Regions from separate parts of the Homo sapiens genome. Here region 1 is linked to region 2. The links come from fine-mapping of genetic effects on plasma protein levels. A gene starts in region 2. The other region holds a variant in brackets. All regions are shown on one strand. Distances are from middle to middle. Region 1 overlaps IL16 (interleukin 16). Region 2 holds the start of IL16 (interleukin 16).

Region 1 (8,333 bases), 110 kb before region 2:
GCACAGCCTTGCCACCTAGAAGGGGCCTCAGCAGCCGTGCAACTTTCTTTCCCTATCTCCAATCCAGAGAGGGATCCTCTAACATTCTCTAGCAACCTCATCTGCACCCCCACCACCTTCCTTGTAAGAAAGACCACGTGTGACTAAAATCCCTTCACGCTGCATTTACCCAGGTTACTATTGTGCGCGCAAAATGTTTTCACAGTGTTCTCAGCCTTTGCTCCTCCAAACAGAAAACGTTTCCCCTGCGTTACTGTTACTTCCCTATTTTTGAGTCCTGGGGTGACTGTCTCTTAAATGTGCCAAGATGTGAGCAAGCTTTAAAACATGACAGCTCAGTGTTAAGGAGACAGAAAGCTTCCTCTTTCTCTGTTCTATTGCAACTACAAATTCTACAGTCATGCCTAAGATCCTTTAGCTAACACCCTTTTCAAGAAATCATCAGACTCTTGGATTGACTTAGAATTCATTCATTCATTAAGTGCTTACCGAGTCCCCGCTCTGTGGCAAGCACTGTTCTATATCAACTTCTCATGAGTTCAGCCAATTCTAGGTGCACCAGCCAAGGAAACTTCATGCCTGCCCTCTCTGAGCTCCATACTCTGAGGTGGTGGTCTTATCAAGATGGGATCGCCTTGTACATCCCTGTGTAGCCAAGTGGAAGGCCAGCCAACCAAGAATGCATCTCACTGGGCCTATGGGACATACTGTGCCTGCACTGCTCCTCCACGTGACTGCATCAGGTTAAACTGGTCAGAGCCCTGGATGAGGAGCTGGAAAACATGCATCCAGTCCAAGCTCTGCCACTTGGGCCAAGTGTGCTCTTGAACAGTCACTTAATATATCTGCTTTGATTTGTCTTTTAAAGAAAATATGGAGGCAGGAATACCAGTGTCAGTGTAGCCTGCTTCTTGAGTGTTGGCACAAGTGAGATAATGTATGAATCAGTAAAATGCTGGGCAAAGCAAAGAAGTAGGGCTGCCTGGGAGTGGATTCCTTTTTATGGTGAGTTAAGACGACTTCACAATTGTTAGCTGTGATGCCTGCAGTGTTTGAGGATGGCATTGCCTTCATCCTGTGTCAGCTCTGAAGAAGTTGGCAGAGCAAAGCTAAGCCTCAAGTGTAAATCCCAGCATCATGGAACGCAAATGGATGAGCTTTTGTTTTAGGATCTTCTTGCTGATTCCTACCCAGAGGACTTCCCCAGCCTAGAGACCAGAAACCTGGGCAATAGTTATATCTTCAGTGGCCCTAGGAGTTGTTGTGTCTCCTTGGGGAGGAGAGAACCTTCTAAAACAGGCCAGAGACAGGAGGTACTGGGAGGGCCATGGGCTCACCTGCATCTATGCCCAGATAACCTGGGACAGATAACCTCTGTCCCAATCACTTGCTTTGCCTGGTCTCTCAAGGAGTCTCTTGGTACCCCAGGCCCACGGCCAGCTCCATGCTCATCCCTGTCCCCACCTTCCAGTCTTGATGAAAACCCACCTTCTCTTTCATCCCTTGGCTGCTTGATAAGACTTAAAACAATTCCCTGATTTTAGGGAAGGCCACTGCGTGCACAGATGGTGAGTTTGTGCAGGCAAGGAATGTGCCCTCCACATCACGTGGCCTCCTTGCCCAGCCTGGGTCATGGGAAGGGAGTGTTGAATTGAATCACGTCTTTCGTTGGTAGATTATGTTCATCTTCAATGTTTCTATTAAGTCTAAAAAGTGGATACAAATGGTGCCTCCAAGTTCTTGTCTAATTGCTTGTCTACTGCTTGACAAAATCCAGAATGGAATAGGCCAAACAAGTTAACCAGCAGGACAGAAACTGCTCTAAGCCCATTATTCCTTGAGATGAATAGAACAGTGAGCTGAACGCCTGCTCTAATGAAGCCACTAAAGGGGTTTACAGGAAGGTTAGGAGCCCAGATGGGTTTTGAGTCCACTGCTGGGAAACAGATTCTTCACTTCCTGTGGACCCTGGAGAAGCCATCAGATTACATTAACATGGCTCCACTGATGATGGCCTGAGAATTACTATTGTTTGTGTTTCATCTGTGTCCTTGCCAGGTCTTCCCCCACATCCTTACTTCACAGGATCAGGGGCTGAGAGGAGACCAATACTCTGGCCCAGGCCTGGTCAAGGGATGCTGGTTGTTGCTGATGCAAAGTCACATTGCCTGGTCCTGAGCTTGGCAATCAGGCATCCAGAGATGGCCAAACCAAATATCCCTTTGGCCAGGCACTCAGGCATTCCCTGTAATGTTGTGCACTTAAAGCATCTTGGGCTGATAGTCTCCACCGAATCACAGAAGAAAACTCAATCTGCCGCATCACTCACCAGCTGGATAAGCCATTTACTGTACACAGTGTGTGCCCTCTTATCAATACATTGGCACAGAACCATACACCGTAGAAGCTGCTGTGATCACTAAAGGCAATGCCCGTTTAGCCCTGAGCACAGTGCTTGGCATGTGGTAGGTAAGTAGTAGCAATTTTATTTGATACCCTCATATACACGCTGGTTCCTTCTGTCGGCACACCTGTCCACGCTTTGAGCTTGGTGCTTCACCTGTACTCCTCTGTTTACTGGCTCCACCACCCTTCCCTAGGATTACTTCTCCAATCCAACCAAAAACAATTTTGCAAATGTTTCATGTGACAAACTGTATTTTTCATAAATGACCCCAGCAATATTTCCTCTCCCCTTAAACCCAGGCAGGTTTGTGTCAGCTCTAACTGATGGAGTATGGTGGAGGTGATGCCATGCAACTTCCAAGGCAAAGGTATAAACAAGATGCAGCTTCTACATGGCTCTTGCGATCCTGGGATGCTCATCCTGGGAATCCAGACACCATGTTGTGAGGAGGCCCAGGCCACAAGGAGAGGCCACCTATAAGCATTCAGGCCAGCAGCCCCAGGTGAGTTCCCAGCCAACATCAACGGCCAGATGTATGAGTGAATGATCTCACGTGGTCCCAGCCTTTGCATGACTTTGCATGACGCCAGCTGATGCCAAGTGGGACAGAGATGAGCTGCCCATTCCAATCTCTGCCCACATTGCAGATTCATGAGAAAAATAAATGTCACTGTTTGGGGGTGAATCATGACACAGTTACAGTACTTGAAACATTTTGCGAAGCCAGGCATGAATGTCATATGAAATTCTAATAAATCCATTTTATTTGTGGCACCACAATATTATCATTAAGCTCTCTTTTTACACAGTCTGCAATTTGTATCAGCTGCCCCCGTGTGACTCTGCCCTTATTTTAGGAACAACCTTTTGCTGGGTGGCGTCCTAGAAGGTCTGGGCCTGGGCAGCAGCCACTGGGAAGCCCACCTGTGCTTTCCCCCATCTGGGTGGGGCGGCAGCAGAGACCCTGAGAATCAGCGGTTATGGGAGCTGTGTGTTAGCTGTGTGTTATTGGCTTTGGCTTCAGCATGTCCTGCCTAGGAGTCTCCAGCAGCTGTGGTTTCCTTGGACTGGAGGCTTTTTCTCCTGATGACAATCGTGACAGGTCCATCAGGCAGTGCCTTGATGATGTTCCAGGCTTCAAACCGTGTGAGGCCCTGCATGGCAGTGCCACCCAGCTGTAAGATTTCATCTCCAGGCTGGACTGTCTCACTTTGTTCTGAGGCTGCTCCTGAAATGAGGGAGAAGGTAATGGGTTCCACAGATGATGGGGAACAAGGAAAGTTGCCTCCTCTCCTTGATCTCCAAAGAGCCAGGATAGCTTGGTAGAGAACAGGGCACCATCCCTTGGGAGCTTGCTTGTTGGTGGTTCTAAAATGAGGCATCTCTTAAGATGGTGACTCAGAGGTTAGGGCACCAGGCTCCAGCTCTCCATGGCCTTTGGAAAGGGATAGCCCTTGCTGTCCCCAGGGGAGGGAAATATCAGGCAGCTCCACGCCTTAGCCTGCCTGGAGCACCGTCCATAGTTCATAGAGGACTCTGGGGAGCTGAGTCCTGCCCAGACCCTGCTTTGGACACTGACCCAATATCCTACTCCCTTCACATTTGTTCTCCGCATGTGGTGAGGACATCAGCATTGGGTGGTATGGGAAGAGAGCTAGTGAGATTTTTGTGCAACAATATTTACAGGGATCTTGCCTCTGGCACGAAGTCCTCTGTGTCCAC[A/C]TAAAAAAGGAAACAACCATATATGGCCCCCACTATTTCAAAGCTGCAAGTGAAAACAATGCTATTTTACTGTTTATATTAAAATAAAATTTCCCATCCATTTGACACAGTGATCTTCACAAATCCTGATAAGAGTAGAAGATAATACTAATGATAGTAATGAAAATATAGCTAAAGTGTATTGGGCAATTATTTTAACAGGCGTTGTGCTAATGTTTTGCATTTATGACAGTAATCCTATGAGGGGTGTATTATTTGTGTTTCCTTTTAACAGCTGAGGAAACCAAGAACTCAAGTAACTGGCCCAGAGCTTCATAGCTGCTAGTGGTGGGCCCTGGGCTGGAACCCAGACTTTCTGGCTCCAGAATCTGCATCTCTCCTTCCAACATCACCCTGCAGCTGGCAGTCTCATCCTAAACATTTAAGCAAATGGGCCCATGGTGGTGAAGTGACTTGTCCAAGATCATGCTACCAAGGTCATGTGGCAGAACTAACACTGGAATCTAGTCCTCTTGACATTGAACCCAATGCTCCTTCCAAATTGACCTTCAAAAATTAGAAATATCTTTCCCAGAATTGGGGTTAACATGGATTCTGGGGGGAATGCCATGTAAGCCTCACTCTACCTTCTGGGTTTCTGCAGCCGCAGCAGAACTTCCTCTAACGAAACCAGTCAGCAGCAGGAGCTCATAGTGGGTGAGGGACAGAGCTAAGAGTCCCTTTGGGTCTCAGTCCTAAGAGCCCTCAGACACACACCTGTACCTCTTTACCTCCTTTTATGGATGAAGAGCCTCAGGCCCAGAAGGGAAGGGTCACTCAGCACATTACAGGCAGAGCTGGGACTAGAACCTGGCCCACCTGCCTCCCTGTCCAGTACTCCTCTCTCTACAACCCCTTGCTCTGTGGCTTGGAGACCTCCAATTTGAGGAACACCAAAGAATCAGGGATGGTTTTACATGGTAGCCACAGTCATTCATGATTTTCACAGGGAAATCCAAGTGACCCCCATATCAGACTGGTTTGTACTCCAATCCCTGATGAACAAAATATCTATCAACATTTTAAATAAAGGCAGGAGCTGACGTGTCCAGGACTAGGGTAAGGCAAATGAGGCCAAGTGTGCAGTACAAAGTCAGACTCTGTCTTGATTTAAACTTGGATATTTTGTCCAACATGTTTTTTTAAAATTAATTTTAAAAAACACGCTGCATTAAAATAGTATCGATCTGAGTTACTGAGTGTTTTGGCACCCCTTTAAAATTCTGCCCCACAGGCCAGTGCCTCACTGCCCCACTCTAGAGTCCTGGCCCTGCCAACCCGAACCAAGCCCAGGACTTAGGTATTTTTGAAGACCCATCAAAACAGAGGGGGGATTGAGGGGATGTCTGAGCAAAGGAGAAAAAGTAGAAAAAGCAGAATTGAGCCCTAAAAGGACCAGCATGCCTATGAAGAGGACATGGAGTTGTGGGAAACAACATAGCCCAGAAAGTGCCCAGAAGCCTTTTGGGGGCCTGGCCACATGCCCACAACTGGAGAGCACGCAAAGAACCAGACACACCCCACACCTTTGAAAATCCTGTTAATGGTGAGAGGCTTGTCTCCGTGTAGGGAGCCCTTCCCTCCTTCCAGGCTGAAGCCCAGCCCTGCCGACATCTTCTCCAGTGTCACCGTGCAGACTGTGGCCTCTGCTGCTGAGAAAAACACAAGGTCTCTGTTAGGGATCCTCTCCTCTCCCAGGCCACAGATGCCCTGGGCTTCAAGTGAGCCCGGGGTGATACAGCCCCCGTGTTTGCACACAGGCACATGTAAACACGTCTCAGGCAGTGTACTAGGCAGCCACACATTCTTGGGGTCACAAATTACTGAGTAGCCCCATCAGGTCTGGCCCCAAATGGCCAAAGAGGATGTGGCCCATGTGGCTTCCACTGAGTTGGGAGAACTTACTAGATTCTACAGAAACATCACTGGCTGCAGAGGCTGAGGCTGCAGAGTCAGTGGAGGAGTTGAGGTCGGGCATGGCCTCTGGAGTCAGCTTCCTTGTGACAATCACAGCTTGCCTGGGCTCTCGAGCTTGGCGGAGGATGGCCAAGGCATCATGGTGCGTGGTCCCCTTGAGAGACTTGCCGTTGATGGAAAGAACCTCATTGCCCTTCTGAATAGTCCCTTCCTGGGAGGCCAGCCCATTTGGAAACACTCTGTGAACCTGAGCAAACCAAAGGAAGTCAGGACCAGAAATCACACAAGTCCAGTCCACATACTTGCTGGAGGAGGATTGAACCGGTTAGTCAATGCTAGAGGATTTTTAGGCCAACAAAGATTAAAGATAATTGTGTCCTAGATTGGAGCTGCTGGCACAGAGGCCAGCATTCCCTCCTTCTCCATCCAGAGCAGAGATCACCAGCAGTAATGACCAGGTAAGCCCTCAGAATCCATCCCAACACAACGTCCTATAGTGTACCACCACGATTCTAGTTGGGATTCCATATAAAATCTTTTGCTTCACCTGCCCTAGGTCAGAAGTCCCCAGAGTAGTTTTCTCAAGGCACTGATTCTATGGCATATTAACGGGTATTGTGTAAGAAAAAGGCTTTTCCTATTATTTTTTAAAAAATAGAGACAGGGTCTCCCAGTGTTGCCCAGGATGGTCTCAAACTCCTGGGCTCAAGCAATCCTCTCACCTTGGCCCCGCACAGTGTTGGAATTACAGGTATGAGCCACCACACCCGGCCAAGAAAAATTTTTTAAAATCAAAGAAACTTGAGGAATACTGGGTGAAACAAAAGCTCTGACATTGTCTACTTTTAAAAAGCAAAAGGCATTAGAGGGTCTACAATGCAAATTTGCATGGCAGCAGATTTCTAAGCAAAAGGCATTTAGAGGGTCTACAATGCAAATCTGCATGGCAGATTTCTAAGTATTGGCAGGGTATTATGGGGATTCCCAAAGTGTTTCAACAAAGAATTCTTTTCTCATAGAGAAATTCTCGGTCTCATTTGGCAGAATGCATTTTGAGAAACACTCTCCTAGGCAGTCTAGACATTTTTATAGCTCCTCCCCTAGAAATTCTGACTCTTTACCTCCAGTCACCTCTTGGTCCCCTTTCTGCAAGATATGTGGGATAAACAAACACACAAAAATATCTCATGTCTCTGCCTCAGCCTCTTTAATGAGGTCCATTATAATTAAGAGGACTGAGTGATAGCATGCATGGAAACCACTAAAATGTGGTACCTGTAGTTTTGCTTTTATGATAGGAGCAAAGCTCTTTGCTTCTCTAAATTGTTTTGGTGTTAGAAAAATTCTGTTACATGGTTAGAATCCCCAGGCTGTAACATCCAAGCATGAAGCAGAACCTCTCCTCTGAGCCTCAGGTTCCTCAATGCTAGAGGATTTTTAGGCCAACGAAGATTAAAGTTAATTAAAGGAGGAACCTCAGGTTCCTCCTCTATAAAAGAAGCATAAATGCCACCAATTTATCAATCCAAAGTGTGGGTAGGATGAATTTAGACAACAGGTCAGTGAGTGCTCAGCATGGCCGTGGATGGTGCTCTACGTTAGTTCCCTTTTAATCATCTGGAAAGGAAGAGAAATGCTCAAACACAGAAGGAGAAAGAAGCTTTTGTGCATGTGCTCAGCCAACATGTGCGCCTTCCTCCTAGTTTCCTGTTGTCTGCAGTGTCTCAAGGGTGACTGGCCAGATGACGTGGACAGAAGTTGCTACTCATGGACAGAGAAAAATACCCAAAGTGCCATTCCCACAGGCAAGCTCTCTTTCCTCCTCTTCAAGTAGAAAGTAAACTACACGGTCAGGAATCTTTTTGTAATACTCAGCTGCACTCAGTGAGAGAAATAGAGACTTACAGGTTTTAAGTGTTTTTTATGTGATAGAAAACTTATCAGGAAATCAAGGAAGTCACCACTGACATGATTGACTCTGAAGTGACACGCAGGAACATGCCAGATTGCCACTGCAAGGGGGTGTGGTATGTTGAATGCTGGCTGATGCTGTGAACTGGAGGATTTGTTTTCAGTTGGGCATGGAAATTCAAATGAGCCCAGCACAGCCTACACAAAGGATACCCTGAGACAACACAGCCCTGGGATGACAGCAATGCACTCGGCTTTAGAGAGCGAGCAGCCGCAGCATGGCTCCACAAAACTGGCAGAACCAGAAACCATCTGGGTCAGGTACAGGTGACCTGAA
Region 2 (8,278 bases):
TTACCAGTTGCTCCCACTCAAAGCAAACCTCTCCTCCAGCATCTCCAGATGTGGCAAGAACAGCGCCTCCCTCCTGATGGGCTCCGCCCTTCCACCCAACGTCCTTCACATCCACCTGAGACATCCACTGAGACTTCTCAGTGTTTCTGGCACACACTGAGCAACACTGTCTAGTTTACAAGACTGACATAGATTCGTCCTTATTTCAACAGGAATTCAAAAGAAGAACTTGAAGTAAATTCCTGATTTCAAGCTGCCTTCCTAGTTAACCACAACTCCAAGTTCTTGGAACTATTTGTTTATTTTGCCCCATGCCTATTTTCTCCCCGTGTTTATGAGCATATTGCTATTCACAATGAATTGCTTTTTAATAGCAAAACGTAACCTATATATGAAAATGTATTACCAATTCAAATGCACAATAAAAAATATGTATTTTATATATATATATATATATATATATATATATTTTTTTTTTTTGAGATGGAGTCTCCCTCTGTCACCCAGGCTGGAGTGCAGTGGCATGATCTCGGCTCACTGCAGTCTCCGCCTCCCGGGTTCAAGCAATTCTCCTGCCTCAGCCTCTTGAGTAGCTGGGATTACAGGCATGTGCCTCCACGCCTGGCTAATTTTTGTATTTTTAGTAGAAACAGGGTTTCACCATGTTGGCCAGCCTGGTCAGGAACTCCTGACCTCAAGTGATCCGCCCGCCTCGGCCTCTCAAATTGCTGGGATTACAGGCGTGAGCCACTGTACCTGGCCAGTAGATTTCAATTCAAAGTGTACCTCCCTCCCTCTCACTCCTATACCCCTGGGCCACTGCTGGGAACCAGAAAGGGGGAGGGGTTGACAAAAGGGCAGGTCTCAAGGTCCTGGTCTGCCTCTGCCAAAATAATTCTGCCTTAACTGATTATACATGAGTTTTCATGATAGATTTTAATTCTAAAAAGGTTTCCATGAATACAAACAATTAGAAAATAATAATTCTATAGTCAATTGCATCCAACAGAGATTATTTTTTAACCCTATGGATATATGACCATCTTTGTGTTGAGGAAACTCAAGTATTTATTGAGGCATGCCACAAAGCCAGTGAGAGCATGGATTTTGGAGTCAAGCTGGGTTTGGGTCCTGGGAACGTCTAGCTGAGTGGTCCTGTGCAAGCCTCCTCACCTCTCGGTTTGGGGATATACTCCCTAAGCTCCAGGTTGTTGTAAGGTTTAAATTAAATGAGGTATGTGAATATTTTAGCTTGGTGCCTGGGGCTTGAAGAGTGGCCAGGAAATGGTTGGGGTACTAAGTTTTATTTAAAAGACTCACTGGGGATTGAATAAATGAGCAGTAGAGGCTTCAAGGGTCTGACCCACCTGACGGCTCATGCCCACGTCATATCTGCAGCAGGGGAGGTGCCTTCTACTGTGCTCGTAAATGTTGACCATCACTTAACTTCAGGGTAAAGAAGGAGAACAGAGGAGGAAAAAGGCTGAACGGTCTTCTCCTTCCGGGGGAAACTGGAGAAATAGGAAGGGGAGCCACAGAGACGGCAGCTCCCAGGCTGCTTCCAGGAACCCAGTGGGAGCTTGAACTGGCCTCCTGGGACAAAGGGGTCGTCTTTGTATGGCTCAGCCTGAAGTGGGAGGATTTCACCTGATAAGGGCAGGAGGAGAAGATGCTTCCCTGTATTCCACAGGGAACCTCTATTCTTATGCTGTTACCTCATTCTCCAGCTACAGAAAGCAAACTTGCTATGGACCAAAAAAGAAAAAAACAAACAAACAAAAAACAAAAACAAAAAAACACCAATCCTGGGACCTACCAATGCAGGAATTAGTCACGGGACCCTTATCAAAAAGCAAGCAGAGTGAACACTTTTCCCATGGTCAATCTGCAGAGATGCCCACCCGCTGTGCCCACTTTGGAGAAAAGGAGTCTGGCCAGGCAGCAGAGAAGCCCCCATCAGGTGCCCCGTGGCCTTTCTCTCTCCTGCTGCCTTCCTTTCCTCCACCTCCTTCCACACCCCATTGCCAAGGATGAGACGAGGCTGAAAAGTCAGAAATCTCAGGACCAAATTCTCCCCGTGCTGCAGAGCCAGGTCAAGCGATATCCCTCTGCCCGCTCTGGCCTTCTGAAGCTGCTTCCTCCTGTACCTAACTGTGACATGGTGACACAGAGATTCCTACCAACACAATCCTGGCTTCTGCTCCTGCCCCTGACCCCAGCACCACTTCCAAATATGAAGTTACGTCCTAGCAACCAAGACCCTCCCCATTCAGGTCAGAGAGGCCAGCTTCCTCCCTCCGGTAACGGCCACCTGGACAGAGCAGCTGCCTGACAGACATTCACTCACCTGGTGCCCACCTACCTCCCTATGCACAGTCCCCCGGGGCTGCCATCTCCCTTGCTCCTCTCTCCATCTGCCCAGCAGGGATTGCAGCACCACTTATTCCCGGACAGCCTGTGGCCCAGGCCTGGGTCAGAGCCGGCAAGGATTGAGAAATGGACGCTCAGTTCTCAGACGGAGGCCGGCCTTTGAGTCAGATCCCAGGCTCCGATAGTTGAGATGCCGTGAGTAGGACACAATATTCACCACCTGCTCTGGACAGGTGACTCAGGACAAATGTGTCCCACCTGGCATGGATTTGCTCGAAGACTCCTGATCTGAGCCATCTGACTGCTCCACGTGAAAAGGCTTGATCCAAAAAGGGGGGCTGCCAGTGCTGAGAAGCTCAGCCTCAGAACAAGGTCCACCATCTGCTGGGCTGGCCGGCAACACCCAGGAGGCAAACCCAGTGCAGAGCCACAGAACCACAGTGAGGTTCCTTGGTCCAGCCCAGTTGCCCCTGCCTTCTTTGGACAACACAGAAATGACTAGGAGAGCCGAAAGGTAGCAGACATGACTCGGTGCCTGCAATGTGCCTGGCACGCTGCTAGGAGCTTTCTATAAACCTCATCACATGCTGGAAGCTGTGGCACGTGCCTATAATCCCAGCTACTCAGGAGGCTGAGGCAGAAGGATCACTTGAGCCGGGGGATTCAAGACAAGCCCGGGCAAACCATAGCAAGAACTCCTCTCAAATTATATAAAAATTTAATAAAAAGAGGAAAAAAGTCATCACATACAATCCTGCCATCAATCTGGTAAATATATCACCTGCTTTGCAGACAAAGAAAGCCACTGCACAAACGTTCATTAAACACCTACTACGTGCCGTGGAATTTCCCCAAGGTCACACAGTTAGCAAGTTAGCAAGTCAAAATCCACCTGTCTCCAAAGCCCAGGCTTTTTCCATAGCATTTCATTTCTTGTCTGTGCCACCCTTTCCCAAAAACAACAGACTGGCTCTCAGAAGCTTATGTAACTCAGTGGTCCTCAAGCCAGCTGCATCAGCAGCATCTGCTAGAAATGCAAGTTCTCAGGCCCTGGCCTAGACCTCCTGAAGCAGCACCTCTGGCACTCTGTTTTCACAAAGCCTCCAGGTGATTTTGGTGCGTGCTCAGGTGCGAGAGCCCATGACCTAACGTATACAGAGCATGTTGAAAACTGCAGCATAAAAGAATGGGGCACTTTTGTGTGTGTCCTGTTGGCATTAGTGTCATGAGACCAGAGTGCCTTTCCCCCACGTAGCCCCTTGGAGAATCTAATCATAAGGTGGCATTTAATCCATCTGCCCCGCAAAGAGCATCCCACACATCTCTCCTAAGCTCAGTCTCTGTGAGCCCTGTGTACATGCTAGGCTGAGGTTTTTGTATGGACCTCTCTTCTAAAGAATGGAATGTTTCCCAACGCTCAGCACCAAATGTTTCAGGGCTTCCTGGGGGCTTTAATGAGGGTGTAGGTGCAACCTGTAGGAAGCCCTTGAAATTCCATGCAAGGCTGCAAAGATCTAGCCGCTGCTGCTGGAGAACACAGGCCCACGGTCCCAAGGGAAGCACGGGAGGAGGGAGCACTCTGGGGATAAAGCTGCCTTTGTCAGCAGGCACAGGGGACATTGTAGGGCTGAGTCTGGAGTGAGTCTGGAGTGCAGTGAAGGAATTTCTAAATTGCAGAGAGTGAGCGCCTCTGTCAGTGTCGCCTGCTCAGCTCACACCCACAATCTCTCTCACAATGGCCTGGGTGCGGTGGGGCCAGGACAGACTCAGGCCCCACTTCCATCTTGCTCTGGCAGAGAGGCTGAGGAGCAATTCAGCACCCCAGGGCTATGGGGGCTGGCCTTGCCCTTCTTGGATCCTGAGGCCTGGGAGGGCCCCACAGCCCCCCTCCTCCACTAAGTCTAAGCTCTCTCTTGTCATCGGCACCTGAATCCAGTTCCCGCCTCTCCCTCTATTTTCCGAAGATCTGTTCTTTCTCACTCTCAGAAGGTAAATTTATTCCAAAGTGTAGTTGAGACTTGGCCCTGATTTTTCCTAATACGGGGTGGTTTGTGCTTCAAGGTGGAAATTTTATCACCCCTCTGCCCTTCAGGACATCCTGCAGAAAGAGTCTCCACCCTGCCCAACACTCCATAGTCCAGCTCACTGCAAGCCAGAAGAGACGGGGAGGAAGACGCAGGTGAGAGAGCCCCGCCCTGGTTAGAACTAGGAAGTTCAAGCACCACTTGAAGCTCAACCAAGAGCTTCCTGTGTGATCTTGGTCATTCACAGCCTTAGTTTGCTACGATGAAAATTAGATGAAATTAATTGTCTGCCAGATGAAATTAGAAACTTCTACTGCACAGTGTTACTGAGAGAATGAGGCAATAGAGGAGGAAGCATGCTGCCAACAGCTAACCAAGCAGAAGCCTGCTCACCTTTTTGGCCCTTCCAGCCCACGGAACTGAGAAATCTGTTCAACAAGTGATTCTGATGCTTGCTAAAGTTTCATAATCAATAACCTGTATTTCCTTCTAATTCTCCTATTTTTTAATTACAAAATTTTATTTCCAAAAGTAAATTTTTAATTACAAAAATTTTAATTACAAAATTAAAATTATAAATTTTGAAAAATTAATTTAAAAAATTTTAATTTTAAAAATTCTAATTTAATTTTTAAAAATTAAAATTACAATTACAAATTTAAATTTAATTTAAAAAATTAAAATTACAAAAATTTTTAATTTCAAAATTTTAGTTATAAAAGTAATACATGTTTGTTGTGGCAAGTAAACATATTCAGAAGGCAAAAAGAAAGTGTGTCCTTAAAATGACACAACAGGGTCATCTCCTATTCTGTTCAAACAATGGCAAAATAAAGAGCTTAGGGTCAGAGCAATAAGCCCCAGCTTCTGTACTAAGCGGCTCTGTCAACTGCAAGTCCTTTTACCTTACTGAGTCTCAGTTTCCATGTCCACAAAATGGAAACAATAACCCAATAATCTGACAGGGCTGCTCAGAGGTCTGAGCAAAGAGCTGTCCTGCAATCTATAAAATGCCTTGGGAATTCTTTATGCTGTACACTTTTGGTCATGCGAACTGTATTATCATGAGCAGAATATAATTTAACAATTTTAACTAGTAATGTAACAATTTTAACTAGTAATGTAACATGACGCAGAATATAATTTAACAATTTTAACTAGTAATGTAACAATTTTAACTAGTAATGTAATGTTACTAGTAATGTAACCTGACAGTAATGGACATGATGATAATAAATTCTCTCTGCATTTAGCACTTTCAACTTAGACAGAATGTTGAGGCCAAAACTTGATGATTTTATTGTACGTCCCCACTTACGGATGCAAACACTGAGACTCAGAGAAGTTACATGTCCAAAAAGTGCACGTCCAAGGCTGTGCAGTCAGAAGCCATTGGTCCCTTGATTCCCGCTCCCCGGCTCTCTTCCCCTCTTTCCCTGGCCCACAGCAACATATAGATTCAAACCAAGGGTTTTAACTTCATACGAAAATTCTAGCTGACTTCCATGTAGACCATGCTGCCCTCTCTCTGGCCTTTTTTTCTTTCAAACTGTCCATCAGGCTTGCATCCTTTCAAAGTAATATTCCATCACTAAGATACTTACAATCACGACAAGCAACTGAAGCCAGTCCACAAGCAAATATACCACGCACATGCCAACAACTCCCAAATTCACTTCTCCAGGCCTGGACTTCTCCTTGAATTCTGACTCTTTTTTCCTACCACTTGCTTAACATCTTCAGCTGGGGTTTAACTTAAATTTCAAAAGTAACATTGCCTGGCTGTTATTCAGTGAGGCAAAAAAAAGGAACACTGCCAACAGTACTCTTGATTCCCCCCCTAATAAAATGTTTCTTCCCTAAACTTCCACATTTTGGTAATTGTCACTAGCATCCATCAATTTCCCAAGCCAAAATCCTCAGTATCAAGGTGGGAAGAACATAGCACAGGCTCTGAAGCCAAAATTCCTGGGTTCATCTCGCAGGTCTGTCCCTGCCCAAGTGCATGATCATAGGCAGGCAAAAAGGCACTTCTCTGTGGACTGGTTTTGTCATCTATAGGCTGGCTAGTGCACTAACATCCACCTCACAAGGTTTGTTTGGGCTAAATATGGTAATACTTGTAAGGTTCTTAGAACAGTGCCTGCCAGAATAAGCCCTCTGTGAGTTTTTATTCATCTTGATCCCTCCATCTCTCTAACCTTCCACATCACATCCAATTTATCAGTGATTCTCGTTGGCTCTATCCCCAGAAGCTATCCCACTTTCTTTCCGCTTCTCTCCATCTTCACTGCCGCCACCCTCCTCTTACCAGTGCCTCTTGTCTGATTATAGCTTTCACCTTCTAACTGGGATTCTGGTTCCTATGCAGACCTTCATAATCCATTTTTCACATAATAGCAGGTAGGCTTTTTGAAAATATAAATTGGATCAGCATAAAATTTGCAAGGGCTTTGAATTACTTTTAAAAACTGTTTTTTGTTTGTTTGTTTGTTTTTGAGACAGCATCTTGCTCTGTGGCCCAGGCTGCAGGGTAGTGGTATGATCATAGCTAACTGCAGCCTTAAACTCCTGGCTCAAGCAATCCTCCAGCCTCAGCCTCCCGAGTAGCTAGGACAACAAGCACATGCCACCACATTTGGCTATTTTTTCTTTTTTCTTTTTTTTTGTAGAGACACGGTCTCTCTGTGTTGCCCAGGCTGGTCTTGAACTCCTGGCCTCAAGCAGTCCTCCTTCCTTGGCCTCCCAAAGTGCTGGGATTATAGGCATGAGCCACTGCACCCAACCACTTTTTTAAAAATTTAATAAACTTTATTGTTCTGAGCAGTTTTAGCTTTACAGAAATATTGCATAGAAAGTACAGAACTCCCGAATACTGATCTCCCTCTCCACACACACAATTTCCCATACTATTAACATCTTGCATTGGCGTGGTACCTTTTTACAATTGATAAATCAATACTGATACATGATTATTAGCTAAAGTTCATGGCTTACGTGATGGTTCACCCATTGTGTTGTGCAGTTCTATGGGTTCTGACAAGTGCATAGCGTTATGGATCTACCACTGTAGTATCAGACAGAGAGATATATTTACTGCCCCAAAAATGCCCTGTGCTCCACCCCTTCCAAAGGCTTTGCGTTGTTTTCCAAAATAATACCCAAATTCCTTACAGTGTCCCAAAGGAGCTAAATGATCTCACCCTTGTTTATCTCCCAAACTCCAGCTTCCACCTCTGCCTCTCCTGCTCGCTGCATCCCACAGCCACCCTGGCCTTCTGGCTCTTTCTTGAATAAGCCATGCCCTTGTCACCCTAAGACTTCTGCCCTAGCTGTTTTCTCTTACAGGAAAGTTCCACTTCCAGATCTTCATATGGCTGGCTCTTCCCTGACTCCATCTCCTAAGTGGGATCTTTCTTGACCACTCAACCTAAACCAGGCACTCACCGTTACCTCTCCTTATTTTATTTTCTTCATAGAACTTGCCAGCATTTGAAGCTGTCTTGTTAGTCTGCTTGGGTACTTACATACCACCCATCCGCCCCATCTAGGTCCCACACAGGGACCTCATCAGCCTGTTCACTGTGGGGTCCCCAGCACTAGAGCATGCCTGGCCCATAAAGGGTTGATAAACATTTACTGAGTGAATCAATGCATAAATGAATGAATAAATGACTAATGCCATGTAATGAGTTTCTACATTTGTTTGTAGTTTTCAGTTTACAAAGAGCTCTTCCAGACATTTCCTTAGCGTAATTTATGTGATTAGGCCCAGGTTTAAATGGAACTTAAAAAACATATTCACAGTATCTCTCTTAGCTCCTAGAAGCCACAGATTAGGAAACAGAATGTTCTCTCCAAGGGAAGAGAGTTTAGTTCCAAGA

Evidence for each region. A credible set is the group of variants that fine-mapping cannot tell apart. PIP is the posterior inclusion probability: the model's chance that the variant is causal. Protein levels are from the aptamer-based SomaScan assay of Sun 2018.
Region 1: its variant is the best candidate, but not a certain one, in a credible set for the plasma level of the IL16 protein (Sun 2018, PIP 0.84).

The regions. Positions count from the first base shown.
Region 1 is chr15:81,303,907-81,312,239 of GRCh38, reverse strand. IL16 (interleukin 16) reads right to left here. Exons shown (of 19, transcript NM_172217.5): 17 at 6,074-6,332; 18 at 5,695-5,820; 19 at 1-3,635. The coding sequence ends at 3,442. It overlaps STARD5 (StAR related lipid transfer domain containing 5), which reads left to right. Exons shown (of 6, transcript NM_181900.3): 6 at 1-3,187. Among named protein-coding and RNA genes, the nearest start is that of STARD5, 16 kb to the left of the region's middle. RefSeq lists a silencer at 3,509-3,686 and enhancers at 7,889-8,333, 7,804-8,333. The variant A/C (reference allele first, on the strand shown) is at 4,130.
Region 2 is chr15:81,191,222-81,199,499 of GRCh38, reverse strand. IL16 (interleukin 16) reads right to left here and starts at 2,621. Exons shown (of 19, transcript NM_172217.5): 1 at 2,348-2,621.